Linked DNA regions of Homo sapiens. The protein of the gene in region 2 interacts with the protein of the main gene of each other region in a biochemical or structural test. Each region holds a gene or a part of one and is shown on either strand. Other genes may lie near its edges. The genes, in order: FOXL1, NFIB, NHLH1 and KLF8.

The links.
Region 1: the proteins of NFIB (region 2) and FOXL1 form a complex in vitro, tested with the Homo sapiens proteins (one study listed by BioGRID).
Region 3: the proteins of NFIB (region 2) and NHLH1 form a complex in vitro, tested with the Homo sapiens proteins (one study listed by BioGRID).
Region 4: the proteins of NFIB (region 2) and KLF8 form a complex in vitro, tested with the Homo sapiens proteins (one study listed by BioGRID).

What each region holds. Positions count from the first base shown.
Region 1 is NC_000016.10:86,574,428-86,581,548, reverse strand, and holds the start of FOXL1 (forkhead box protein L1), read right to left. Parts: upstream 3,001-7,121; 5' UTR 2,826-3,000; coding exon 1,788-2,825; 3' UTR 1-1,787. UniProt on the Homo sapiens protein: Transcription factor required for proper proliferation and differentiation in the gastrointestinal epithelium. Target gene of the hedgehog (Hh) signaling pathway via GLI2 and GLI3 transcription factors.
Region 2 is NC_000009.12:14,150,138-14,157,163, reverse strand, and holds part of NFIB (nuclear factor 1 B-type), read left to right. Parts: intron 1-1,270; coding exon 1,271-1,339; intron 1,340-6,898; coding exon 6,899-7,019; intron 7,020-7,026.
Region 3 is NC_000001.11:160,362,812-160,370,096, reverse strand, and holds the start of NHLH1 (helix-loop-helix protein 1), read right to left. Parts: upstream 3,027-7,285; 5' UTR 2,760-3,026; intron 1-2,759. UniProt on the Homo sapiens protein: May serve as DNA-binding protein and may be involved in the control of cell-type determination, possibly within the developing nervous system.
Region 4 is NC_000023.11:56,249,340-56,256,365, reverse strand, and holds part of KLF8 (Krueppel-like factor 8), read right to left. Parts: intron 6,136-7,026; coding exon 6,062-6,135; intron 1-6,061. UniProt on the Homo sapiens protein: Transcriptional repressor and activator. Binds to CACCC-boxes promoter elements. Also binds the GT-box of cyclin D1 promoter and mediates cell cycle progression at G(1) phase as a downstream target of focal adhesion kinase (FAK).

The DNA.
Region 1 (7,121 bases), on a different chromosome or scaffold from region 2:
GGCTGGCCTGAAGTTTCCCAGAGTCTTCCCACTGGCCTGGGTAGAACCCAGTCGTGGAAGCCTGGTTCAGCATGGATAGGAGAATGAATTTTCCAAAAGTCACCTCTATGCCTGTGAATTATCCAATTACTCTGCCGGCCTGAAATGTCCTTTCCAACACATTGACCAACAGGCCCTCTGGATTCAAAGTTTGTCATCATTTTTAGACAAGTCCTGGAAACTATTTTAAAAGCGATCTTAAAGACCTCCCTCCCAACCTATTTCCAATAGTGCGTGACTACTTGTGTCTTTATCACATGACATAAAATAAAAGTGACTTAGAGGTTCAGAAAATTGCATTTCAGGGCCTCGAAGATTACCCAGCTAGAGATGGCATAGAGGTCGGTTGCATTTCCCCGGAAGCTGCAAGCTGAACTTGGTTGTGAACATCTCAATGTTCTTAATTAGATTTTCGTTGCAGACCTCTTCTCCCCTCCCCAGACTGCCAGTCACCTCTTTAAGGTTTTGATTTAGTATCAGCCTCCAGGCCTGCCTGGCAGGGCTGGGAGGGAAGAGCGGGCGGCTGCAGGGGGTGCGGGGGCCAGGAGTGTCTGGGAGATTCCTGCCATCAAACCTCAGGTCCTCTGGGGCCCAGAGAGGCCCCTTCCAGCGGACACCAGCACGTCCCCTTATTCTTCCCCCGCATTCATCCCTCTCTCTCTCTGCATCTGCTTTTGGTTGTTTCACCCAACTTTTTAAATTAAATGTAGTCTTTCATTATCTGTTTCTGAAAAATATAGCGACCACCAAGCCTGGATCTTGAAAAAACATGGAAATCAAAACTCTGACATTGTCCAAGGCATATCCCCTTCCCCTCACACCCTTCCTCATGGTATCCCTTGAAATATTTTGATCCCTTAAAAACAAAAGCAAAAGGATAGGACGTCTGCTGTTGTGGCTTACATAGCTGCATGTGTATTGGCTAATGAGCTATCGTAATGCAAGAAGATGTTATATAGAGTGCACTTTCTTAATAAAAATTGTTAATACAAGCGTTTTCAAAGGTCAATGCTTAGAGTCAAGTATTTATGCAAAGAATGAAACATGTTCTTTTTACTACCCAGAAAGAAATTAAGAGAAAAAGTCTCTGTTTAAAATAAAAGTGTTATTGCTCTGGGTGGTTATCAGCTTCTATAGCTGAACATTGGTCATAAATCCTCATCGGGCCCTACATCTCTCAGAAAACCTGAAAACCCGGGGTCACCCCCGGCACCTCCACAACTTCAAGTCAGGAACAAACCCAGCTGTGACCACCCACCACCCAGATGGGCTCAAAACCAAGGCCTGAGCCACACGGCAACAGCGAAGCAGGCGACGGTCATACGGGGGTCCCCGGTCGAAAGGACCTCAACTGCACCTGTAAGGCCTGCCTTGGGTGGTCTGCGGGCCCTTGCATGCCCGGGACTCGCAGGACCTGCGGTGGGCGGCTGAAGACCACACTCCATTAGACAGGTCAAACGTCAAGGAATCTCCCGCGGTGGAGGTCCCTGCAGGGCCCACGTGCGGTGCCCACGACCCCGCGGGGATCTTTTAAGTCTCCGTAGCTGCTCCCAGTTGCTGGGAAAAGTTTGCTTCGGAGAAGGCAGGCGAGCGCGCCCACCTGCGCGCAATGGTTGGTAACACTTCCCTGAACCCACAGGCCGACCCAGGCAAAGATCATTTTAAAATCCTCCGCCGGTGGGAGCTGTGGCCTTTCGCTCAGCGGAGGCTCAGGCTGGGCCGGGAGAAGAACCGTGCCATTGTTTGCTTTACTGGAAGTGGAGTACCGTGTCGGGAACCTGCAGGGGGAAATAAGAGAGGAAGGGGATCCCGAGCTGGTAAAAGCCGCCCTGGACATGCGGGTCGAGCATCAGGGAAGCGTTGAAAGGCGGACGGAGGCTGGAGGAGGCGGCCAGGAGCGAGGCACCCAGACGGCCGCCGGGCCCAGGCTTGGCACCCCCTAGGAGTTCGTCCCCTGAAGGCGGCTTCTGGCCCTGCTTTCCCGCCAGGATGCTGTCTATGCTGAAGCTCTTGGACTTGTCGGAGCTCTTCGGAGAGCTGCGGGAGGCGGGGCGCAGAGGGGACCCCGGGCCGTCCCCTGTGCGCGCTGCCTGGCCGACCGCCACGGCCGCTGCGCCCTGGGCAGCGTCACCAGCGTCCTCGTTCGGGGACGCGGTCCCCGGCCAGTGGAGGGGCGCCGGCGGAGAGGGGCCGTCCAGGAGGGGCGAGGGGCCCGCGGGCGCTGCCTGCAGGCGGGAGATTGCGGGGCCCGAGCCCCCTGCCCCGCTCCCCGCCTCCGGCTGCGCCTCCGCGCTGCGCTGGTGCGTCTCGGCGCGGGGCCTCTTGGCCTCCGGGGCCCCGGGGCCCGGCTTGGGCTTCCTCTTCCGGCGCCGGTAGTTGCCGTTCTCAAACATGTCCAGGCAGCGGGGGTCCAGCGTCCAGTAGCTGCCCTTGCCCGGCCGCCCTTTCTCGCGGGGCACCTTGACGAAGCAGTCGTTGAGCGAGAGGTTGTGGCGGATGCTGTTCTGCCAGCCCTGCCGGTTGTCGTGGTAGAAGGGGAAGCGGTCCATGATGAACTGGTAGATGCCGTTGAGCGTGACCCTCTGCTCGGGCGCGTCCTGGATCGCCATGGCGATGAGCGCGATGTAGCTGTAGGGAGGCTTCTGCGGGGTCTCGGCCCGGCCCGAGGCAGCTAGAGCAGCCGCGGGGGCGAAGGCCAGAGGGAGGCCGGGTCTCTCGGGACCGTACAGATACAGCATGGGCGAGGCGGCCAGGGCAGGCAGCCGGGGATCGAAGAGGTGACTCATGGCAAGCGAGAGCCTGCGCTGCGCTCCCCGCAACGCAGGAGACCCGGGCGGCCTAGGCACTGCGCCCCGCGCCGCAAGGGCCCTCCCGGGGAGCCAGCCGTGCCTCTGCCTCTGGCTCTGCCGCTCTCCCCGGCCGCTCCGTGCTCTGTCCCTTCTTCATGGCTTTAAAAATGTTAAATAATTGTTGTAAGTTTGCTGTTATATGTTGACTTAGCCCTGGAAAATAAATTGTCTATGATAAACAGTCCTTGTGTTCTCAGCCCACCCACATTAATTAAAATTTCATTGCTGAAAAACTCCAAGCTTTTCCCTCCACGTGTCTTTTTGATACCAGCCAATCGGTTTTGGGGCTATTCCTTCATTTGTTTATAGAATTAGTCTGTTGATAAGTCCGCCCACCCAAGTTGAATCAAGCTGTGTTTATTTGGAAAAATTTCCGGGCACCCAATATATAAACGCACTGATCTGATGTTTGAAATATCACGTCCACCCCTTGACGCTGTAAGCACACACAGTCAGTGAGGCAGGATGTAGACTGCGGTGGCTCAGAGCAGGGTCTGCTGAGCCAGGAAGGAGAGGTGGAGATGGGGGTGGGTGTGCAGGGATGAGTTTTACGCTGGCCTGGGGGAGCCCCATAACGCCAGGGCCTCCCACAAAAGGTCTTTTCTTCTCCCAGGCTTAACCGGAGATATCGAGATGCCACAGTCTAGTAAAACACTTTCTGAGGTCCTAGGAACCTTTTAGATTGGGGCAGGGAGAGTATCTAAGAAGCCTGAGTGTCTGCTGAGAAGGGGATGCGGCCCTCCCTGGAAAAACAGGTGGCAGACCCAGTAGGAGGTGGCACTCTCTAGGGACCTGCTCTCCCACACCCTCCCTTCCAGGGCTCTCCGGAAATCGGAGGGAAAGTGGACTCTGGGAGCCCAGTCTCTCTGGAAGGGAAGGCCTAAGGCACTGGGGGCCTGGGGAAGAGCTCATGGTCCACAGCTCCATTGAGGAAGGTTTCAAAATAAACCCATTTAGAGAACCGGGGGCAAAAGTAAGGTCCTCCTGATGGGGCCAAGGTTGCAAGAGAGGAACACCATAAAAGGAGGCCGTGGCAGCTGGCGCGGGAGGCCTGGTATTTGTGAATGTGGGTCTCCAGCTTTATATTCTGGGCTTTCCTGTTTATAACAAGGAGGGGGTTATAACAACTTTACAAGTGCATGCAGCTGGCCCGTGATTACATTAGGCATTTGGGAAGCCTGCTTGCTCTCCCTGTATCCACCCACCCTGGGGTGTACGCGGCCCTCCACCCCCATCTCATTTTACATTTTCCCACATCACTGTTTGAATAAAAAATCCTGAATCATGCTGATTTCGAAGGGGGCCTCTCCTCCCCACTCCACCGGTTAGGGTAAGGGTAGAGGCACCTAGTGTGACTACTTCCTGTTTATGACCACCCCCTGAATATTAAAACACACACACACTGTCACACACACACCCACACACACACACACACATTCGGATAACTGGCGTCTCATTGAGCAAATCGTGTGAGCATGTCAAAGAGATGAGGGAAGGGGGAGGATGGCAGGTGGGTGTAGAAATGGCCCACTGCCAGTGGGCCAGGAAGGAGGGAGAGGCACCGAGGGCACTTACAGGGGTAGGGGGAGTGTCTGCCGCTGCCACACCCGGCTGAGGATGTGAGTGCCCAGGTAGCCTCTGAACACGGAAACGTGGCGGGCATCCTTTTTCAAAATGAGAAAATCAGAAATAACCCGTGTGTTTGGGGTTCCTGGGTATCCAGCCCATGGAATAAGTAGACCGCAGGGGAGCGGGTAAATTTAAAATACCAAAAAGGAAGTCGCAGGAAGGGTGGAAAAACCGGCCTGGGTACCGGCACTGCCTGCGGGAGCGACAGGCCAGTCCCTGGGACACCTCGGGCCTCCCTCCGCGGCCCTGCTCCTCTAACGTGGGTCCAGCGAGCAGCCCGGCCGCGCCCGCCTAGGTCCTGGGGGTGAACCTCTGGCCAGGAGGGGCGAGGCTTTGTCTTTTCGTTACCACTCGCTCTCACCCGCGTACCCCTTTCAAACTTGGGGTGAAGAAACCTCAATGCCAGCGCCTTTGCAACCCGCAGGCCCCACAGTCTCTGGGGTCACCCAACCTCTCCGGGGCCGCGCGCCCCCAGCAAGCTCAAGTTTGGATCCAGTTCCTTCTCCAGCCTCGGCGCTCGCTCCAACACACCCAGACCGAGAGATAAACCGGTGTCACTATGCAACCCTTTCCCCACCTTCCTATCCCACAGCCCCTCCTGGAGCTCCCCACGCGGCACCCGAAGTCCAGCACGCACATCCCTGCCTCTACCGAAACTCCCGCCGTCCCGGCGCGTCTTCTAAACTCTAAGGCAAATCCGAGCTTGAATTTGTACGGTGATAAATACTGCCCGATTTGGTAATGGGCGGGACGTGGGCGGAGACACGGGAGGCTGGTGGGCGGGGCACCGATAGTAAAGCAAAAAAAAAAAAAAAAAAAAGAGAGCGAGAAAGAGACAGAGAGAGATTAGGAGAGAGAGAGAAAAACCAAAAAACAAAAAACAAATGCCCACGCTCTAGTCGCGGTTTGGAGACGCACACCCAGCCCCGCGCGTTTGCAGAAGTGTGCAAAGTCTCCGGGAGGTTTCAGCTGTAGAACTCCGGCTTTGCGCCCCAGCCCCGCTCCAGAGCGGGTTTGAATCCCGGGCTCCCGGGTGATTGATGAGTTTGTAACCTGAGCCTAGGAGGGGCCTCTGTTAGAAGGAACCCCGCGCTGGGGCAATTTCCATATTTCCGGGGAGTGCAGGCTCAAGCCCTAGGAGTCCGAGAGCGGATGCGCCCTCGTGCGGAGGCTCTGTTGGCTGAGGCCAGAGCGAAGGGCCTGCGGGGGGCAGCCGAGCTGGGAGACGGCCGGGCGGGCCTCTAGAACGAGTGTCCTAGAGAGCCAGATGGGGACACTGAATGTTCCCTGTAGATTCATAAGCCTCGGATCCCAGAAAAGCGCGTCATCTGAGAAGTCACTTGGTGAGGGCTCACCTCCCAGCCTGCAAGAAAAGCCTGAGATCTCTGGCCTGCCCGGATGCTCCAGAAGGACTGGAGTTTCCAACTCTGAGGCTTGAGCAGAAACGGGGTTCAGCGTGGGATGAGGGTAGTCAGCCTCCTTCCCAGTCCTGGGACAAAGCGCATGTGCGTTCCTCAGGGAGGCAGATCAGAGACCAGGCATTGGTGATGAAAACGGCCTCAGATAAAAAGGCTGACGGGTGAGAGACAAGAGCTCCTCCCACTGCGCCCCAAGCCATCCACTCAACCTTCCTCACTGGAAAGCAAAAAGCAGAAACCTGAGTTAACAGTAATCTGTGTCGCTTTCCAAACATCTGCATCACTTTTCCAAACGTAAAGACAGTTACCGCATGTACGACTTGTGTGTGTGTTACATACGTATGCATGATTCAACCGCGTGTAGCATGTTTGAGAAGAGCTGCGGTGGAAAGATGAAGGGTTTAGCCCCTCACCTTACTGACAACCTAAAAACATTGGAGACAGATGATAATAATATGAATAACTAGAATGTACTGAGCCATTTCATCCTCACAGCAGCCCTAATAGAAACCTTTGTCGCTCCCATTTTGCAAACCAGGAAACTGAACAACGCCCTGTAAGTTAACCTGCCTCAGGTGTCCCATGAGGAAGTGCTCCAAAGACAGAAAATAATCTTACAATAGCACCAGGTGTGGACACTCAGGGCTCCATGGAAGTTCTCTTGCCAACTCTTACTAAATCTGTGAAAGGCAGGCGTGGCAGATTCACCCATTTGACAGATGATGAAACTGAGGCTCGGCACATAACACCCCAAGACCCTGAAAGTAGGAAATGGCCGCACAGGGACCACAGCCCACGTGAGTGTCCTCCAAAAGTGGGTGCTCTGGGGTCTGACATGCTCAGGTATCTGGAAGGACTCAGAGGCAGAGATTGTCTGGAGTAGACAGTGGGAGAGGGGCCCTCCAGAGAGGAGAGGGTGTGCAGCACCCCTGGAGCTGGGAGATTCAGGACATTATAAGAAAATCCCAGAGTCCTTGCTTATGTTCCACCAAAACCCAGAAGACCTCTTCCTCCTTCCCTCCCCGCCCACTTTGAAAAGAGTGGAAGATTTCCAGAGCTGGAGTAGCAGGGCCCAGGGCCTCCCTTCTCTTGGGAGGCAGTGAGCAGGACATGAAGGTAATGGTGGTCCCACTGAATCAGCAAATGCAGAAGGAGACCCAAAAGCTGGGCGGGACTTCCCAAATGA
Region 2 (7,026 bases):
ACATGCTTATCATGGGGTTTATATTTTTATCTCCAGTAGTAACAACTCTATAAGATAGGTGATTTTTATTGTCTCCAATTTGTTAAGTGAGGAATCTGAGGCAAAAAGAGGACTAATAACCTAGCCAAGATTTCATAACTGGTCATCTGTGGCTAGGATTCAAATCCCAGCTCTTTGATTTCAGTGCTCCATGTTGCTGCACTACCCATGCTTCACATCTCTGAACTGCATCTAATTCCTTGGTCAGCCCTGAAGCTTTATGTAAAATCCAGTCAAATTGCCAGTTCTTAGAATCTAGTTTTGTTTGTTTGTTTCTCAGATGTATTTCAATTCTGAGGATTTTCAAACTTATTCTCACCCTAGGACAGAAGCAAGTAGGCCATAACCTCCCCTGCTAAGGTATTCCTCACACTCATTACACCCCCTTAACATAGATGAGAATGGGGTGGGCTGGGTGCAGGGTTACTGTTGTTTGTGGGAGTTCTCATCTCTAGTTTTGGACATAGACCAGCTAGCAAGCAGGCTCCATGGCCACTGTGGACCCTGCCCCGGTGTGACTTAAGGGTCATGTGGCATTCCCAGAGGCCTGGATTCACCACCATTTGCCAGAAAAGTTGTCTAATTCTTGAAATAAAAGGAGTCCAGTGGAATAGTAGCAAGGGTGAGGAAAGCAGTGAAATCGTGCAACGTATATTAAAGATGCCCAGAAATAGGTCAACGCAAAGTTCTGTATTTGCTGTATATACAAGTTCTGCTTTTTATGTTATTAGTGACCCTGGAACAAGGGTCGGGGTGCTGGTAACAGCAGTTCACTTTTCTTTCATCAGAGAAGGGTTTACAAAAGAACGGTGGCTTTAAGAGATCTTTGACATTATTCCAGCAAGGTGCTAATTGTGGTTGTGGTTTCCTTTTTCTTTCTTTCATTTTTCGCTTTAGTCTACCAGGTGCTACCGAGTCAAAAGCATTCACTGAGAGCCCACAGACCATTCTGTATGCATGGGCCATGGCAAATCAAACCGCATCAATAAACCTGTACTTTTAGAAAGGGAAGAAAAAATTTTCCTAAGAGATTATTTGGTATCTAAACTTTTTATTTTTGTTTAAACAAACCTAATTTGCATTCCTAAGAGTCATTTTTTAAAGTCCTTATTGTAAGCATATTTGGTTTTTGTTCAAACCATTGGCTTTAAAACACTTAAATTCTAGTGTATAATCATTTATTTTACTTTCTGCTTATATTGATCATTTTTCCTTTAATATTTATTTTCAGGTTACCTTGAGGATAGTTTTGTAAAATCTGGAGTCTTCAATGTATCAGAACTTGTAAGAGTATCCAGAAGTAAGTAAATTGTTTTGTTACTACTTAAGCATGCAGTATGATTTAAAATACTTTATATTTTGAACCTTAAATGTAGTATAAAGAGTGACCACATATTAGGAAAATTTGAATTAAAATCTTAAAACCTTTGATGAAATAACAATATATTTTGCTTGATTTTCTAAAATGTTTGCATTCAAATCATCAAAACTTTTTGTTGTACAAAAATAATTTTGGGGTTTTTCTGATTGCCATGTTATTGGTATTCATTTAATTCACTGTTCTCTGCATGACCATAGATGGCCATTTATATCAAAGGAAGTGTGATTAATTAAATGTACTCTATGTTGTTATGATAACCCACATAAGTTTCCTGTAGATAAGTGCTTTTTCATTTTACTAACATTTTGGTGGGGGTTGGAGATGCACAGGATATACACACTAACGTGCAGAGTGTAGAGGGATGCAGAAATTAACTTTGCAGATTGTAGTTGGATATAGATAGAAAGCATTGTTATCCAAAACAATGTCCAATTGTTTTAACTGGCCACTTCACCTGAGACACCATTCTTAGCAGGCTGGATCAGATTTTTCTAGGCTAAGCTCACCTGGCAGGCTACCTAAGCAAAGGGGACGTTACCTTGATTAACTCTTTTACTTATTACTAGCATGTACAAACATATCCAAGATGCAGATCTATATGTACTAATTATGTTAAAGAAGGTGACTCCTTTCTTCATACTCCCTTCACTGATTTAGCTTATTTATGTAACTTTGAAGGGTATATTTTCACCTGACATTTTGATAGAATGCATCACACTTCGGAGTGATGTTATTCAGATGATGTAGTCACACTCTGATACCTGCCTAAGTTGTGTTTCTCATTTGGGTCATATTTAGAGGTCATGAATAAGAATTATGATGATCCAGAAAGAACAAAGAGTAATCGAGTTACTGAGGATAAGAATAAGCAGTGTTTTAGAGTCTTGTTGTTCAGTAAAGGAATCTTCACGCTATCACTGACTGTCTTTTGAACCGTAGTTCCTCAAATAGCTCACATTTCTAAAGTGAACAGTGCAAATAGCATGTATAGCAGGGAGTGATACATATGAACGTTTAAGATCTTAAGTAGTTTATCCTTTCTGGTATAATTCTAGAGTGGATAAATGTATGCCCAAAAGACTTCTCTCATGGGTCTTTTTACATGGTGGCAGTGTAGGAGAAGAAACACAAATATCCTGTATTCTGGTAGCCCCAGGGTGTGTATTCGATGGGCAAGGAGATTGTCCAAGGCAGTGTACCTTAATGTGTTTTTCCAGATCAATATGTGATATCCAAAGGTATCCAACATTTGAAAGTTTTCACTTTTAATTTGGGAAGAAATATGCCTGACTTACCAGTAGCACTTTGTAGCATCAGGTAAGACAGGGGTTATCTGAAGGGGTGTGTGTGTCTTCCCCATACTCTTCTTTAGCGGAAAGGCTTATGGTGCTCCAGTTAGGAGGCTTATTAAATTATTTGCTTAAATTTGTACTTCTCTGAGTTCAAGTTCAATGGTATATTTTCATCCTTCTTAGGAGTAGGGCAGTAGAGTCAGCTGTCAGAAAATATTTATTTAGTACCTCATGATAGGTAATATTATGCTAAGGGCTGTCAAAGGAGAACCACATTAGAACCTTCAAAAGCCCAGATAGATATTTTGAAAAATCTGAATTTCAAACATTAAAACAAAGATGAAAATTATCTTTCTAGAACAGTTCAAAACCAAGGTAAATTTAATATACTTCATTCATTCATTCTTAACTTATAATGTCATATCCTAGAAACTTTTAGGTTATTTGTTATAACAAACATTACTGATTTGTAATTAGCACATTAATTATCTATATTCATTACGTAATTTATTCAGCAAACATTTATTTTCTCCTCCATATGTAAATAGGTGTCTCTGAAAGGCCTGATAAGTTCTCCTCCTAAGTGTTTTAATATATCCGCATCATAATCTTTGTTTACACAATTAAACTTCATTATTTATGAAATAGGGGTTTGCTAAGTAAACATAAACTTCAGCACAACACTATGTGTGTATCACAAATTCTGACTTCTTGAGGGTTTACAGTATGCTAGTGCTTTCAGTCCTCTAGGGTTTTACAATCATAAGACCCACTGATGTGTATGTTGACTTTAGCTAATGAAGCCATTCAGCATTAGGATAGTGATCTCTCTTTTGAATGATATTATCTCCATCTTAAAAGTTGATTTAGGATCAGCTTTTGGAGTGAGGAGAACAATAAGGGAGATTAAAGGTTGGCCTCTAACCCTTAGAATCTGAGGTTCTTTGGTGCTTCATTTCTAAGAGGATATCGGCATCCTCTTAAACATGATTTGCAGCTTTCAGCCTTCTTGTAGCTCCCTGGGAGAGGCGCTAACACTGATCTTTGCGTCTGATGTAAGTTCTTCCAGAGGCTCTTAAGCAGGAATATCTGACTGAGACTTGCTGTTCCCACACACTCTGTCATTAAATAATTTCCATGTGTGTTGTTTTAGTACTTTGGCCGTGTTTGTTAATCTACTTTCCTTTCTGTATCTCCCATTTAGTGTCAGAATGCATACTAAATTTTTACAGTGCTCATGCATAAATCCGTAGACAAATTATTTTATTGCTATCTTTACAAAATTAAAACATAATATGTGTACATATTTATGGAATCCATGTGATCTCTGGATCCATGCATACAGTGTATAATGATTAAATCAGGCTATTTAGGATATCTGTCATCTCAAACATTTATCATTTCTTCATGTTGGGAATGTTTCAAATCTTCTTTTTTTGCTATTTTAAAATATGTAATATATTGTTGTTAACTGTAGCCACCCTGCTGTGCTATCAAATACTGGAAATTATTCTTTCTGTCTATTATAACTGTATGTTTTTACCCATTAACCAATCTCTCTTCATCTCCTCACCTCCCCACCCTCCCCCACCTCTGACAACCCCTTCGATGAGATCAACTTTTTAAGCTCCCATGTATGAGTGAGAACATGCTATATTTGTCGTTTTTATTGCTGTCTTGACACTGCGGAATAATCTTTCTGGAACAAAATTTAGAAAAAAACAATTTCTGAAGATTTTAAAATTATCATTTACTACAAATTACATCTAGTTTATTTATGGGTAAGCAAATTATGTTAACTATGGAGCCATATGTATTCAATAGAAACTATAAATCTTTGCCTAAATATTGCATGAGCTTAATAAATTGAAAATAGTTTATGTAAGGTGGAACCTCTAAGTTTCCTGTTAATAACTCAGGTCTATGAATTGTATCCATTACTGTGATAGGAAGCCAGACAGATTGTTTACTTCACTTGAGCCCCTGAAATACTCCTTCTAGCATGTACCCCACTTCCAGTGTCATATAGAACATGGTTCTAATAATAAATTATAAAACATGCGGTTACTGTGGGATTTCTTACCTCACATTTTTTTAACCTTTGGTGTGCCTCAAGCCACAACAGACATAGCTACATTTTAGCTGTCCAAATAATTCAAGCCATCAGGCACTTAGTTACTCATTGGATACAAGTATTTTCTGTGTAAAGGATGTTACAGTGTATTATATAACATGAACAATCTATCAGAAGGCTGATAGATAATCCAGAAGTTTGGAGCTGTTACTAGTCATGTATATACTGATGTATTTAATTTTTAGTCCAGAAAGGGAGATGTTCATTGTGTATTCCGTGGTTACTTCTCTGTGATAAAGCTTGTACCTCCTAATCATACTTTCTTAAAAATATTTTAAGTTAATCTTAGCCTGCCTAATATTAAAATACAATTCAAAGGGTAGTGAACACATTTAGAATATTCATTAAAAATGAGGGGTAAGAAAACTTCCATAAAAATCTGCAATCCCTTTGGAATTTTATACTCAACTTGAGGCAGATGGGAGAGAGGAGGAGTTTAAGTAGACCACGTATGCTTAGAGTGCATCTCAGGGGCTCTAGAATTTTGTTGCAAAGCCCCAGAGTACAATTTCGTGTGAGCTTTTGAAGGGCTGATTAAGACAGGTAAAGAAATGGAAACTATTCTTAAGGAGTTCTTTGACACCAACCTGCCTGGTCTCCACTTTGCACATTATCTCTACCTATGATTTTGCTTCTGCAGCAGTCCCTGTTTAGAATGACCTCCCTCTAATCTCTTACTCATTCTCCAGAGTCCAGTGCCAGCTATGGCTTTTCGCAGACTTCTTGGACAATTCAAGCTGGTATTGGATTCTTTTTCCCTTGAAATTCTACAGCAGTTTTGGATCATGTCATTAATTTGGACAGTTTCATTTTCATCTATTTTGGTATTTATGTGTTTCGCATGAATGTTTTACTTACCCAGCTTGTTGCCCAATATTTTTATTAAGGGCAATATATGAGACTATTTTGTACACATTGCAGCCAACACCTGCCAGCAGTGGACACAGTCAGTAATTTGTTGAATGAACAAATTTTCAGCGAACAGGTTCATTTATACCTCTTCCTCTGCTTTTAACACGTTTTTGAACTGTTCATCTTTGCTAACCATTCCAGTCTACCAGGGAAGAAGTTTGGAGGAGAAAGCAAAGAAGGAAGGGAACTCACAATGGTTGAGCACGTGTTATACACTAGGCATGATTCTAGGCTCTTATCACTACCTATTTCATTTCATCCTCAAAATAATCCTATGTGTCCGGTTATTATTACTCCCATTTTACAGTTAGGAAACTAGGGCACATAACTTATAATACAGAGGGAGTTTAAACTAAAAGGCTATTTATCTCTCAAGACTCTGCTGATTCTAACACAATATGCTGCCTCACAGCTTTGTTCATGATATCTAAAATTAAATTTAAAAAATGTGAACAGATGTAATTATACAAAATATCATGAGATATTTTGATAAAGACATACAATGCATAATAATCACATCAGGGTAAATGGGGTATCCATCACCTGAAGCATTTATCCTTTGTGTTACAAACCAAAAATTATTATTCTATATTATCAACATTAATATCAACATTAATATTTGAGTGGATTAGAAGTCATGATATTAATAATTATTATCATATCCTAACTGGGAGGCTGTGAATAATGATTTTTGCTTTTTTTTGTGAAACGGTTCTCTGTTTATTTATTTAACAATGATTTGGTTTTCGAGAGCCTAGGTAGTGCAAAGCAGCTTGTTTGGTGTTGCTGAGTGATAGGACTCGTATATTCTGTTTCCTCCAAGGCATTTTTAACTAGCAGAGTGACAGATGTAATGTCAACTAATATAAAGGAGTGAGTAAAGAAGGTTGAGGAATAGGATTCGGGAAATTGGTAACCAGTGATTATAATCTGATTGCCTCAAATTTCCAAGCTTGAACGTTGCTAAGGTGAGCAAGTTTTCAGGTCCTACCCAGGTTGTATGGTGGGTATTAGAGGCTTAAGGTGAAGAAAGTTCTCTCTATCTTTGACCAGAGGCATGAAAGATTCTCGATTATTACATTTGAATAGAGGTCAGAAATACGAATGTCATTCCCAGTGCTTCTTTGTCTTATTCCTCAGCGCCCATAACCCAGGGAACTGGAGTCAACTTCCCAATTGGAGAAATCCCAAGCCAACCATACTATCATGACATGAACTCGGGGGTCAATCTTCAGAGGTCTCTGTCTTCTCCACCAAGCAGGTACTGA
Region 3 (7,285 bases), on a different chromosome or scaffold from region 2:
AACATAATCAACAGAGTGAAAAGGCAATCTATGGAATGGGAGAAAATATTTGCAAATTATATATCTGATAAGGGGTTAATATCCAGAACATATAAATAAATCCTACAACTCAACAACAGCAAAAAATCAAATAACCCAATTTAAAAATGGGCAAAGGAGGGATTGGGAGGGGCGTGAAATGAGAAATTACAGAATGGGTACCGTGTATGTTATTCAGGTGATGGACATCCTAAGAGCCCTGACTTGACCATTATGCAATCTATGCATGTAACAAAATTGCACTTGTACCCCATAAATTTATATAAATAAACATTTTTTAAGAAAAAAATGGGTAAAGGACTAGAATACACATTTCTCCAAAGATTTTATACAAATGGCCAACAAGCATATGAAAAAATGTTCAACATCACTAATCATTAAAATGCAAATCAAACCCACTATGAAATATCACTTCATACCCATTAGGATGGCTACTATAAAAACAAAAACCAAACAAACAAAAAATAAGTCTTGGCAAGGATGTGGAGAAATTGGAACCCTTATGCCTTGTTGGGATTGCAAAATGATGCAACCACTATGGAAAACAGTATAAATGTTCCTCAAAAAATAAAAAATAGAACTACCATATGCTCCAGGAATCCTACCTCTGGGTATATATACAAATAAAGTAGGGTGTCAAAGAGATATTTGCACACTCATGTTCATAGCAGCACTATTCACAATAGCCAAGAGGTAGAAGCAACCCAAATGTCCATCAATAGACAACAGATAAACAAAATGTATTATATACATACAGTGGAATATTATTCAGCCCTAAAAAGGAAGTTCTGTCACATGCTACAGCATGAATGAACCTTGAGGATATGATGATAAGTGAAATAAACCAGTAACAACACAAATACTGTATAGCTCCACTTATATGAGGTATTTAAAGTAGTCTAATTCATAGAAACAGAAAGTAGAATGGCCGTTGCCAGGGGCTGGAGGGAGGGGGTAAAGGGGAGTTGTTGTTTAGTGGGTATAGAATTATACATTTGCAGGATGAAAAATTGCTAGAGATCTGTTTCACAACAATGTGAATATACTGAACACTACTGAATTGTACACTTAAAAATGGTTAAGATTATAAATTGTATGCTGTTTTTTATCTAAATGAATAAATAAAAGGAGGAAAAAATCTGAGCAAGACTGCAGCCACAGCCCCAAGAGAAGTTAGCTATGACTCTAGATGCTTCCCAGTTGTGAGGGGAGAATACAAGCCTTGGCCCTGTGGTCCCCTCCCTCTCAGGGCCCCTCTCCACCCTTGCTGCCTGAGGTGGAGGAGCGGATAAACACACAGATTGCCCATTGTAGAATAGACTAGGACATATGGAGCTCTGCGCAGCTGCCCCAGCTCTGCACAGCTCCCCTCCCAGTTCCCCAAACCTTCCCAGCAGAACCATTGTAGATATGAGATCCTGTCCACTAAAACCAGGGGAAGATATCTCTTCTCACCACCACCCCACTGTGCACAACCAGCCTCTTCCTCCACCTCTGTCTTCGAAATTTTCAGCCCTTGCCATTCCCTGGCCCTTTTGGAGGCTGGGCAAGGAAGATTGGGGAAAGGGAACATAATCAACCTTCTACCCCCATACTCTCCCATAGCCCAAGGAAGGTTCAGACACGGCCTGCAGAGGACACAGACAGATTTTTGGAGCTACCCTTATGGGACTCAGCTAAGGTTTGCTTGTCCTAGGACCAGAGGAGATCAGGGCAAGGCAGCACAAACATGGCCTGGGAAAAGCTGGGGAAAGGGCTTTGCTTGTGTGCAGTGTTAAAGGGGAACAGTGGGCCACTCACCATCAGCTCAACTAAGAATGATTAGAAACAGAAGCACCAAGGTGCCTGCACCATCACTATCTCCCCTTCCTCCCCAGCCCTGGCTTTCCTGTCTGATAGATACTCTCAAAGGGGTTAGGATCCTCCCAAGCCTTGCCCCACCCCACCACACAGAAGATAGGTTCAAGTCAAGCCAACAAACAGCTATGAAGCTCTGGAGGGATGCAAAGTCATCCACATCTGATGACAAGTACACACACAATCTTAACAGGAAACAGAAGGTGGTTAGTGCTGAAATTGAGAACACATTCCATATTCTGGGGTTCAAATGAACTATGGGGGGATGGCAATAGTGTGGGAGGCCCCAAAGTCAGCACCTCCCAGTACATGTTTAGTGCCCCCAACTCCCCACCCCCCATGCTGGGGCTGGGAGCAGGAGTTCAGCTGCGGAGTTCCCAACACATTTATCACATCTATCACAGGCTAATTCTCTCTGCCCGGTCCCTATGTTCCTTCATCCCTCATCACTTTGCCATGCCCTTCCTTCCCCTCTCCGTGCTCCCCATCTGGCCCCAGTCTCATCTCCACCTGGCCCCATTGTCCTCCCCAGTTCCAGTCCCGGCAGCAGCTTCTATTTACCCATCAAGTCCTCACCCCCAAATCCACTTCTGGTCTCAAAGTTCCAGGGTCCAAGGATCAGGGGAGCAGCAATTCCAAGCCTGCAGGACAGGACTTCCCACCCCACTTCTGCCAGCCCTAACCCAACTGAGGATAGATAGGCACAAAGAGTCGAAGGGGAGGAGTGGAGAAGAGGGACACGCGGAGACAGGGAGAGACACAGCGCACAAGGGAGAGAACTAGAGGGAGGCTCTAGGAAGGGGCTTGAGCCAGAGAATGGGAGGGACACGCCCATCCCTCCCCGCCCATGGTTTCCCCTTTACCTAGAAGGACCCTGTCAGGGGATCCAAGCCGGCAGGACAAGGGGCAGCGTTGACAGCCCCAGTCTCCTCTGGGTGCTCAAGGCTCATCCGTCTGCAAAGTTAGTGACCAGCTTTCTAGACTCTCAGGGGTAGCGTGGCATGGCTGTACAGGCTCCAGGGCAGATAAGAGGGGTACACATTGTGGGGGTGTAGGGCCCAGGTGGAAGTGGTGGGCTTGGCCAGGTACTGGGGCCAGCCACACTCACACACACACCCTCAGACACACACACCTGAGCTGGCCCAGCCCTATGTATATATATGGAGATACACACACACACCCCCAGCTCTCCATTGGCTGGCCCAGGCCCACCCCCCCCTCATCAATATTAAACAGCCAGGCCAGGCAGCCATTGGCAGAGGGATCTGGGAACCCCTCGGGAGCTGGGGGCGGGGGCTGGCCCTGGGTGGGGGCGGGGAGCGGGGGAGCAGGGACATCTGTTCTCCATGCATATTTCATAAGCAAGAAATGGAGAGCTGGGGAAGGGGTGGGGCTGGGGCGAGAGCCAGGGCAGGACCACAGATGAACCCCCTCAGTCTCCCACACCAGAGGCAGCAGGGCAGAGGCTCCCAGCAAGCTATGGTTAAGTGCCATGGCCCCATTCGGAGTCCCAGCGTGACTTGGACAGCCCCTTCCTGGTGTCTCTTTTTTCCTGAGAGGGAGACTCTTCAAGGTACTAACAGGGAAACCGAGAAAAGAGCAAGTGGGTAGCACTAAAATGCAGAAGAGGACCCTAGGGTCCTGGCCCTCAAGCTCTTATCCTTCATAAAGCTGGTACCCACTGCTTGCCAGCCTGCCTGTAGCAACTGTTCAGGCCCCTACCCTCATCACCCTGGGACTCAATCACCCCCATACCCTCTTACCCCACCCGCTATCTTCCTACCTAACCCATCACCAAGGGGAGGAGCAGGATCAAATTTGGGACACAGACCCCACAAGGAGTTTTTCTAGGCTGGCCAGCCCAACCTGACCCACTGGGAATTAGAGGGCTCTTAGGAAGAAAGAGGTAAGGGCTAAAAGGAGAGGAGTGGAGGAGTGCCAAGACAGGAAGAACCAGGATTGGAAGGACACTGGGAGAGGAGGGCAGGGCAGCCTAGGCAGGCTCTGAGTGTGTTTTGAGGGCATCAAATCAGCAATAAGAAAACCAGACACAAAATTATATGCAAATGGGCACTGATTAAGCTCCCATCAATAGCTCAGCAGCCTCCAGCATGTATATGCAAGTGTGTGTGAATGTGAATGTAAGTGTGAGTGTGTGTGTGTATGTGTGTGTTGCCGAGTGGCAGGATTGAGGAGGGGCAGCACAGGGACCAGAGTGCATAGAGAGACAGTGCATAGAGGGTTTCAGTGTCTGAAGTTCTCTCCCCACTCAGCTGTTGGATGTCTTCTCTGAACCTTTGAGAGTATTCAAAAGAACCATGACTGGAGAGGACTCCAGAGGTAGTGTGGTACAGTGAAAAAGGCTCTGTCAGCTGTGTGACCTTGGACAAATAACAACCTTTTGAGCCTGGACCTCTTTTCCTGTAAAATGGGGTTGATTATAGCTGCTTCTTAGGTTGCCATGGAAATTAAGGGAGATAATATGTGTAGTGGGCCTAGAGCTTAGTAGGAGCACATCCCACCTTCAGGCTGGAGGGACTTGCCATTTCCCTGTTGCTGGTCAACCTTTTCTGGGCTTTCTCCAGGGTGAAGCATTCCCTAAGGGGGTCCCATAATTCCTCCCCAAGCTCCCCCACCTGCCCCCATCCCTGAGTCTGGGAGGTGCCAACTCCCACCTGGGCAGGCCCAGACAGGTGCCCAGGCGCCAGCAGATGGGCTGAGCTGGAGGGGAAAGGAGGCTTGAGGAGGGGGGCTGGGGGGCAGGGGATCAGGTGGCATCTCAGTTCTTGCATCATCATTGCCATGGTGCTGATTAAAAACCAATCTCCACCTAATGAGCCCCCAGCAACAACAATTCTACCTCCTCCACTCTCCTGCCCTCCACCCCATCCAAGAAATTGGGAGACCAAGAGACTCAGGAGAGAGTGCCATGGGGGAGATGAGAGATACAGAAAGAAGGGGAGATGAACAGAGACAGGGGAAGCGGAGGGAAACGACGAGAAAGACACGGGAAGATACCGAGACTCAGGGAGAGAAAAAAATGAGAAACCAGAGTCATTGGGTAACAGACATGGGAAAGACATAGGGAAATGGGAAGACACAGTCTCATGGGGAGATTGAGACACAAAGGAGGTAAAAAGATTTAAAAAAAAAAAAAAAAAAAAGAATGGAAACAGAATTGCCAGGTTGCCAAGGCTTTGTGGAAGACTTGGAGACCCAAGCTATGGGAGAGATAGAGACTTGGGGAGAGGCTTTAAAAGAGGATGCTGTGGCCGGGCACGGTGGCTCACGCCTGTAATCTCAGCACTTTGGGAGGCCGAGGCGGGTGGATCACCTAAGGTCAGGAGTTTGAGACCAGCCTGACCAACATGGTGAAACCCTGTCTCTACTAAAAATACAAAAATTAGTTGGGCGTGGTGGTGGGCGCCTGTAATCCCAGCTACTCGAGAGGCTGAGACAGGAGAATCGCTTGAACCCGGGAGGCAGAGGTTGCAGTGAGCCAAAATTGTGCCATTGCACTCCAGCCTGGGTGACAAGAGCAAGACTCCGTCAAAAAAAAAAAAAAGGAGGCTGCTAGGGAGACACAGACTTGGATGAATACATATGTGGAGGAAACAGCTATTCAGCGGCAGGGAAATACTGACACCATGAGACAGAGTCCTGAGGGAGGCCCCAAGGCAAGGTGGGGCCACATAGGCACGGGGTAAGCAGAGAGCAGACAGTTGGGAGGAAACAAAAAATACCAGAGACAAAGAGAACAAGGTGGGGAAAGGTGATAAACTGAACGATGGAGATGAGGAACTATTACTGAAACAGGGAGGCCAGATCCCAAAAAGTAAGACATTGAGGAAAAAAGAAGCAGAATCTAGAGAGACCCCCGAAGCAGAAAGGAACCTTGAGGATGGCATAGAGCATGCAGGAAGAAGCCAAACCCCTTGCAGGGCTCCCTCCTTTCAGGCCATTTTGCTCAGATACTTAAGCTCTGCAACCTCCATCCCTGAAGCACACCGCCTGAACCCGTCGCAGTTCAAGCTAAGGTTCCACGGGAGAGGAGGGTGAAAGAGTGCTCTGGGGGCTGCTCCTCCTCCTCTGCATCTGGCATCCCAGGATCCTGGACTCTGGGGCCTCCTGCCCCAGTTTTCACTTAGGATTTCAGCTTTTGCTCCTTAGGGGAGTAGCTAAAAAAGAACATAGTTGTGACAAAGAGGACATAAACGCATGAAATGGTGGGAAGAACTACATCTACTAAATTTGGGGGCAGCTACACATGGGTCTAAGTCCTGGTGACCTTGGATAAGTCACTTAACCTTGGCTGAGTTTTATTTTGTTATAGTAGTGACACCCAGGTGAAATAATGCATGGGAAAGTGCTAGGTGAACTGTATAAAGTGCTCATCCCAACCTCCTATGGTGATTTAAAAGTGGCAAGAAGTTTCATACACACATATATCTGAAGCATTATGATTGTGGAGGCAGGGGAGAGCTCTGAGGCCAACCCAGGTTGTCTGGCCTCTGGCCCCAGTGAAAGGGAGAACCCTTGGAGTTGTGTGTGGGTCTTTGCTGCAAGGAGGACAGGAAGACCAGGGCCTGGGGATAAGGAGGATGATTATGGCTTTATAGTTTGTTGTTATTTTACTTTCTTTTTGTTGTTTAAAAATCTCCACTGGCTTTTATTTGCTATAATCCGATAATCAAGCAAAACCTGATACAATAGAATGAGTGTTCCTGCTATTTTACATTTTATAGGCATTCACTTTTTCAGATCATGATTCACAAATCTTTCCCCATAGCCTGAGAGGTAGATCGTTGAGGGAGGGGAGGGAGGTTGGTGTGTAGGGAAGACACAGGGGCCTGGGCCTTGTCCTTGAGGGTGGGGGGAGGGCCTGGAGGAGCTGGGAAGCAGTGGGTTTGGCAGGAGAGGGGGTGACATATGTGGGGAGCCCTGGGGACCCAACCAGGCAAGCGGCTGGCAGGGACAGCAGACGACATTAACCCTCGCTGTGCCACACCGCCTGACCCTTCCCAGGAGTGGCCTATGGCTAGGGTGTTATTTTGTAACAGTGGCAGTGTTTTGGGTCACAGGAGCAAGACAGGCAGAGCTTGCTCCTCCTGGGCAGGAGCTGTTGTTTCTGGGAAGGGACAGCCTGTCTTGGATGTCTTCTGTCTTAGCTTCTTTCCTTGTTTTTCCACATGGTCTCTGTCAGTCTGTCTTTCTCTGTCTCCACCTCTCTGTGCCTCTGGAAGGTGACAGCGGGTCTCCACTCTGGCTCACTACACAATCTGTCACTCTCTCTGCTGCCAGCCCGGCTGGAAGCCCCCCTTCTCAGCACCCAACTGAGCCCTCTCCTCCCGGCCCTCTAGGCTGTATTGCCTTTGTCTCCTAAGGCGGC
Region 4 (7,026 bases), on a different chromosome or scaffold from region 2:
TGAAATAAAATACAAAAGATCAGTGAAACAAAAAGTTGTTTTTTGAAAAGTTAAACAAAATTGACATACCTTTAGCCAGGCTAATGAGAAAAAAAGAGAGAAGATCCAAATAAATAATATCAGAAATGAAAAAGGAGACATTACAACTGATATTGCAGAAATTCAAAGGATCATTAGTAGCCACTATGAGCAATTACATGTCAATGAATTGAAAAATCTAGAAAAAAATGGACAAATTCCTAGACACATATAACCTACCAAGATTGAACCATGAAATCCAAAACATGAACAGACCAATAACAAGTAATGAGATTGAAGCCATAATAAAAAGTCTCCTAGTAAAGAAAAGCCCAGGACCTGATGGCTTCACAGCTGAATTCTACCAAACATTTAAAGAAGAGCTCATACCAATTCTACTGAAACTATTCTGAAAAATAGAGGAGGAACTATTTCCAAACTCATTCTACAAGGCCAGTATTACCCTGATACCAAAACCAGACAAAGACACTTCAAAAAAAGAAAATTACAGGCCAATATCTCTGATGAATACTGATGCAAAAATCCTCAACAAGCTACTGGCAAACCAAATTCAACAATATATTAGAAAGATCCTTCATCCTGACCAAGTGGGATCCCTGGGTGCAAAGACAGTTCAACACACAAATCAATCAATGTGATACATAATATCAACAGAATGAAGGATTAAAGACCATGATTATTTCAATTGATGCTGAAAAAGCATTTGATAAAATTCAACATCCCTTCAAAAAACTGGGGATACAAGTAACACCTCAGCATAATAAAAGCCATATAAAACAGACCCACAGCTAGTATCATATCGAATGGGGAAAAACTGAAAGCCTTTCCTCTAAGACCTGGCACATGTCAAGGATGCCCATTGTCAACACTGTTATTCCACATAGTATTGGAAGTCCTGGCTAGAGCCATCAGAAAAGAGAAAGATATAAAGGGCATTCAAATTGGAAAAAAAGAAGTCAAATTATTTTTGTTTGCAGATGATATGATCCTATATTTGGAAAAACCTAAAAACTCCACAAAAAACTATTAGAACCCATAAACAAATTCAGTAAAGCTGCAGTATAGAAAATCAAACTAATCAAATCAGTAGCATCTTTATGTCAACAGTGAACAATCTGAAAAAGAAATAAAAAAGTAAACCTGTTTACAATAGCCACACATAAAATTAAATACCTACAAATTAACCAAAGAAGTGGGAGATGTCTACAATGAAAACTATAAAACACTGAAGAAAGAAATTGAAGAGGACATCAAAAAATGGAAAAATATTCTATGTTCATGGATTGGAAGAATCAATATTGTTGAAATGTCCATACTGACAGGGACAGGAGGCAGGGAAATTCTAGGCAGAAGTGGGCAGGTCCCTGGTGAGGGCCCCACCCTGAAGCCTGGAACCACAGTCCAAAGTGAGAACTTATATTTCCGTTTTCCTGCTTGAATGTTGCCTTTTCCAAAACCACCCATGGTTGACCCTGCCCCCTATCCTGTGCCCATAAAAACCCAGGCTCAGCTGGCAGAAAGAGGAGAAGCAGCTAAACGTTGGAGATTATAGTTGGATGTTGGAGAGAAGTGGCTTGACTTCAGAGGGACAGCTTGATGGCATAGCTTTGGAGAGGAGTCCAGATGGGGACAGCTGGAATCCAGGGGAAGATTACCTTCCCACTCCATCCCCTTTTCAGCTCCCCCTCCCACTGATAGCCACTTTGATCAGCAATAAAATCTCCCACATTAACCACCTTTGATTCATTGTGTAACCTCATTCCTCCTGGATGCCAGACAAGAACTTCAGTGTGGGTGCAGAAGGCTGTCACACTGACCCTCTGGTGAGCTGTTAATGCTTAAGCCATCTGCAAACAGCAAAGCTAAAAGGGTACTGTAACACTCCTTCTGGGGCTTCAAGGGTCGCAGGCACCCCGCCCCCCGGACTCTGCTGTGGGGTGCGCATAGAGTTTTGCTCCTGCCGGTGCCCAAAGGCACTCACCCCAGCTCCTGCACCCACTGACCTGTGATTCCCCTCCCACAAGGGGTAGAACACAGCAGGTTTAAGTGAGTGGAATTCGCCCCTGCTAGTGCCAAAGCGCCAGCTAGGTCCAGCACCAGTGCACTCCAGTTCCCACCCACGAAGGGGTCAAGGAAATATCCTGCTTCAATGCTACCTAAAACACAATACAGATTCAATAAAATCCCTATCAAAATACCAATGACATTCTTGTCTGGGCGCAGTGGCTCATGTCTGTAATCTCAACACTTTGGGAAGCAAAGTGTTGCTTTGTCAGATTGTTCACTGTTGACACACTTTGGGAACACAAAGAGGTGGGTGGATCACTTCAGGTTAGGAGTTCAGGACCAGTCTGGTTAACATGGTGAAACCCCGTCTCTGCCAAAAAAAAAAAAAAAAATTAGCTGGGCATGGTGGCACATGCCCATAGTCCCTGCTACTTGGGAGGCTGAGGCACAAGAATTGCTGGAAGCCAGGAGGTGAAGGTTGCAATGAGCCAAGATTGTGCCACTGCACTCCGGCCTGGGCAACAGAGTGAGACAACATCTCAAAAAAAAAAAAAAGAAAAAGAAAAAAAGACATTATGTACAAAAATAGAAAAACGAAATCCGAAAATTTATATCAAACCACAAATACCGAGAATAGCCTGTTATCCTAAGCAAAAAGAACAAAACTGAAGGAATCACATTACCTGACTTCAAGTTATACTATAGAGCTATAGTAACCAAAATGGCATTGTATTGGCATGAAAACAAACATACAGTGCAATGGAACAAAATAGAGAACCCAGAAATAAAGCCATACATCTACAAAGAATTCATTTTTTACAAAGGTGCCAGGAACATACATTGGGGAATGCGTGGTCTCTTCAATAAATGGTGCTGGGAAACCTGGATATCCATATGCAGAAAAATGAAACCAGAACCCTATCTCTAACCATATACAAAAATTAAATTAAAATGGATTAAAGAGTTAAATCTAAGACCTCAAACTATGAAACTGCTGCAGAAAATATTTGGGAAAATCTCCAGGACATTGGTCTGGGCAAAAATTTCTTGAGCAATACCCCACAAACACAGGCAACCAAAGCAAACAGGAACAAATGGGATCACATCAATTAAAAAGCTTCTGCAAAGCAAAGGATTCAATCAACAAAGTGAAGAGACAACCCATAGATTGGGAGAAAATATTTGTAAACTACCCATCTGACAACAGATTAATCACCAGAATATATAATGAGCTCAAACAACTCAATAGAAAAAAGTCTAATAATTCAATTTAAAAATGGGTAAAACATTTGAATAGACATTTCTCAGAAGAAGACATACAAATGGCAAACAGGTATATGAAAAGGTGCTCAACATCAGTGATCATCAGAGAAATGTAAATCAAAACTACAATGAGATATTTAAAATGGCTTTTATCCAAGAGTTAGGCAATAATAAATGCTGGTGAGGATGTGGAGAAAAGAAAACACTTGTGCACTGTTGGTGGGAATGTAAATTAGTACAGCCACTATGGAGAACAATTTGGAGGTTCCTCAAAAAAATTGAAAATTGAGCTACTATATGATCCAGCAATCCCACTGCTGGGTATATACCAAAAAGAAAGGAAATCAGTATATCAAAGAGATATCTGCACTTCCATGTTTGTTGCAGCACTATTCACAATAGCTAAGATTTGGAAGCAACCTAAGTATTCATCAACAGATGAATGGATAAAGAAAATGTGTTACAGATACACAATGGAGTACTATTCAGCCATAAAAAGAATGAGATCCTGTCATTTGCAATAACATGGGTGGAACTGGAGATTATTATGTTCAGTGAAATAAGTCAGGTATAGAAAGACAAATATCACATGTTCTTATTTATTTGTGGGATCTAAAAATCGAAACCATTGAACTCATGGACATAGAGAGTAGAAGGATGGTTACCAGAGGCTGGGAAGGGCAGTGGGGTGTTGAGGAGGAGGTGGTCATGGTGAATGTGTACGAAAAAATAGTTAGAAATTGTCTGGGTGCAGTGGCTCTCTCCTGTAATCCCCAGCACTTTGGGAGGCCGACATGGGCAGATCACCTGAGGTCAGGATTTTGAGACCAGCCTGGCCAACATGGTGAAACCCTGTCTCTACTAAAAATACAAACAATTAGCTGGGCGTGGTGGCATGTGCCTGTAGTCCTAGCTACTCAGGAGGCTGAGGCAAGATAATTGCTTGAATCTGGGAGGCGGAGGTTGCAGTGAGCTGAGAAGCCACCACTGTACTCCAGCCTGGGCAACAGAGAGAGACTCCATCTCAAAAACAAAAAAAAGTTGGAAATAACAAATAAGACCTACTATTTGATAGCATGATAGGGTGACTAGAGTCAATAATAACTTAATTGTACACTTAAAAAATATCTAAAAGAGTGTAATTGCATTGTTTGTAACACAAAGGATAAATGCTGCAGGGATGGATACCCCATTCTCCATAATGTGATTATTTCACATTGCATGCCTGTATGAAAACATCTCAATGTATCCCATAAATATATACGCCTACTATGTACCTACAAAAATTAAAAATAAGGCCAGGTACGGTGGCTCACACCTATAAACCCAGCACTTTGGGAGGCCGAGGTGGGCGGATCATGAGGTCAGGAGTTCGAGACCAGCCTAGCCAATATGGTGAAACCCTGTCCCTACTAAAAATACAAAAATTAGCCGGGCATGGTGGTGCGTGCCTGTAGTCCCAGCTACTCAGGAGGCTGAGGCAGAAGAATAGCTTGAACCTGGAAGGCAGAGGATGCAGTGAGCCAAGATTGTGCCACTGCACTCCATCCTGGGTGACAAAGCGAGACTCCGTCTCAAATAAATAAATAAATAAATAAATAAATATATAAAAATTCAAAAAATAAAATAAAAGTTGAAATTATAACAAAAAGATTCCTAAATGTAACCAACTTTATCTGATGAATTAAATAAAGAAACAGACAAGTATTGTATATACAACACTGTATACTCAAGTCTATAGGTGATTTAAGGATTTTCAAGGTTAATTTTGACTGTATTTGAGTTTCACTCATGCAGTGAATTTGCAACCCCAAGAAAGACGGGACTTCAACATCTAGCACAGAGCCCTGGGACATAAAATCCAGATAACCTGTTTCGAATCCTAATTCTTGGAGTGTTCAAGGCCAGTTTTATTTTCCATCAAATGGGGAAACTAAGAATAATGATGGTTAATTTTATGTGACAACTTGGCTGGGCTACAGTGCCCAGATATTTGGTCAAACATTATTCTAGATGTTTCTGTGAAGGTATTTTTTTGGATGAGACCAACATTTAAAACATTGTACTTTAAATAGGGCACATTACTCTCTATAATGTGAGTGGTCCTCAACCAATCAGTTGAAGACCTTAGTTTTTAAAACAAAGACTGTCCTCCATAGAGCAAGAAAGAATTCTTCTCACAATCTGCTTTTGGACTCAAACTGTAACTCCTTCTGAATCTCCAGCCTGCCGGCCTACCCCTGATGGGGTTTTGGACTTGCCATGCCTCCACAATCTAATGAGCCAATTTCTTGAAATCTCTCTCTCTCTCTCTCTCCATGTACATATATGCATACACACACACATACACCATACACACATATCCTGTTGGTTCTGTTTCTCTGGAGAATACTAATTAATACACTGTTCAACAGGATTATGGTGAAGATTAAATAAGACAATGCATTTAATCTTCATCCTATCTGAAATATGAAATAGTGCTATATAAATAGTTGCTATTGTCTACTAAAGGTCTACTCTTGTCTTTATAGCCTTGATTCCAGAGGCTATGTTTCTTTTAGGCCAGATCTACTCCCCAGCTGACTATGAAACCAAGGCATTCATATACTTTCTAGAAATATGTCTTCCTTCACCTCTTCTCAATCCCCAAACATGTTATAGAAAGAAAAATGAGTTTAAATTCTGTAATCACTACCAGGTATTCAATACTATTATGGCCCAATATTAGCACCCTATTTTCCTGATAACTGACCTGCTTGAATACCTGCATTGAGCCACCTTCTGAATTAAGTTGGACCTCCAAGTTGTTTATGAGTTTATCCATATCTGGAAAAGAGAAAAGGAAAAGACAACTTTCAGAATAAAATCTAACCCACTATATGCATAAATATGCCATTAATGTTATGTGTGTTCTATGACCTTTATCTTTCAGTGCTTACCAGATACTGATAAGTCATTGAAACCTTCTGATTTATTTTACTCATCAAGATGGACCTAACTTTTCCCCAATAATATTAGCTGCTCCCCTCCACCAAACTGCATGCAGGTAATCTGTTTCTTCCTATTTCTCCAACATGCTCTGCCTTCAGAGGAACATCAGTATAGCTACAGTTTTCAGTATTCTACCTTCCTGGTCTAGTTCTTGCTTGAAGGAGTTCCAAGCTCCTATATATATATTTACCCGAGTGAACTTATTTACACATCAAGGCCAAATCTCTCTAGAGACGTATTTTATCTGTCTACGTCTCTTAAATCTGCAAGCCAGGTGGGGTAATAAAAACAGTTTTCTCTTTCTTCTTTAGTTTTTCCTCTTAAAAAAAGGAATTAGTGTCTTAATTCAGCTGCCTTAAACCATCAGTCATTCATACTAGAAGCACCTACTAGCTTTCTTCCTCAACCAGATTTTCTGGGAGTTAGATGTGCAGCACTCACATCCCATAATCTTTGGCAAGGCCTTTTTTTTCCTAAGCCACAACTTGTCCATCTATGATTAAAAGATTTCAGACTATCCTCTGCAGAACCCTAAGGCTTCCATGGAACTTGGGGGTGGGGTTTGTTAAATTAAGGTTAGCTTAAAGCTTCCTCCTTACATATTTCAAGTTCAGCCTAAAGGTTTCCCCATCCATAATGAACCATAACCTAACTGGATGTGTAGACAGTGTAATCTACTGTTGCGCCAATCACAGAGTTTCAGCCAATTACAGGCAGTCAACAACT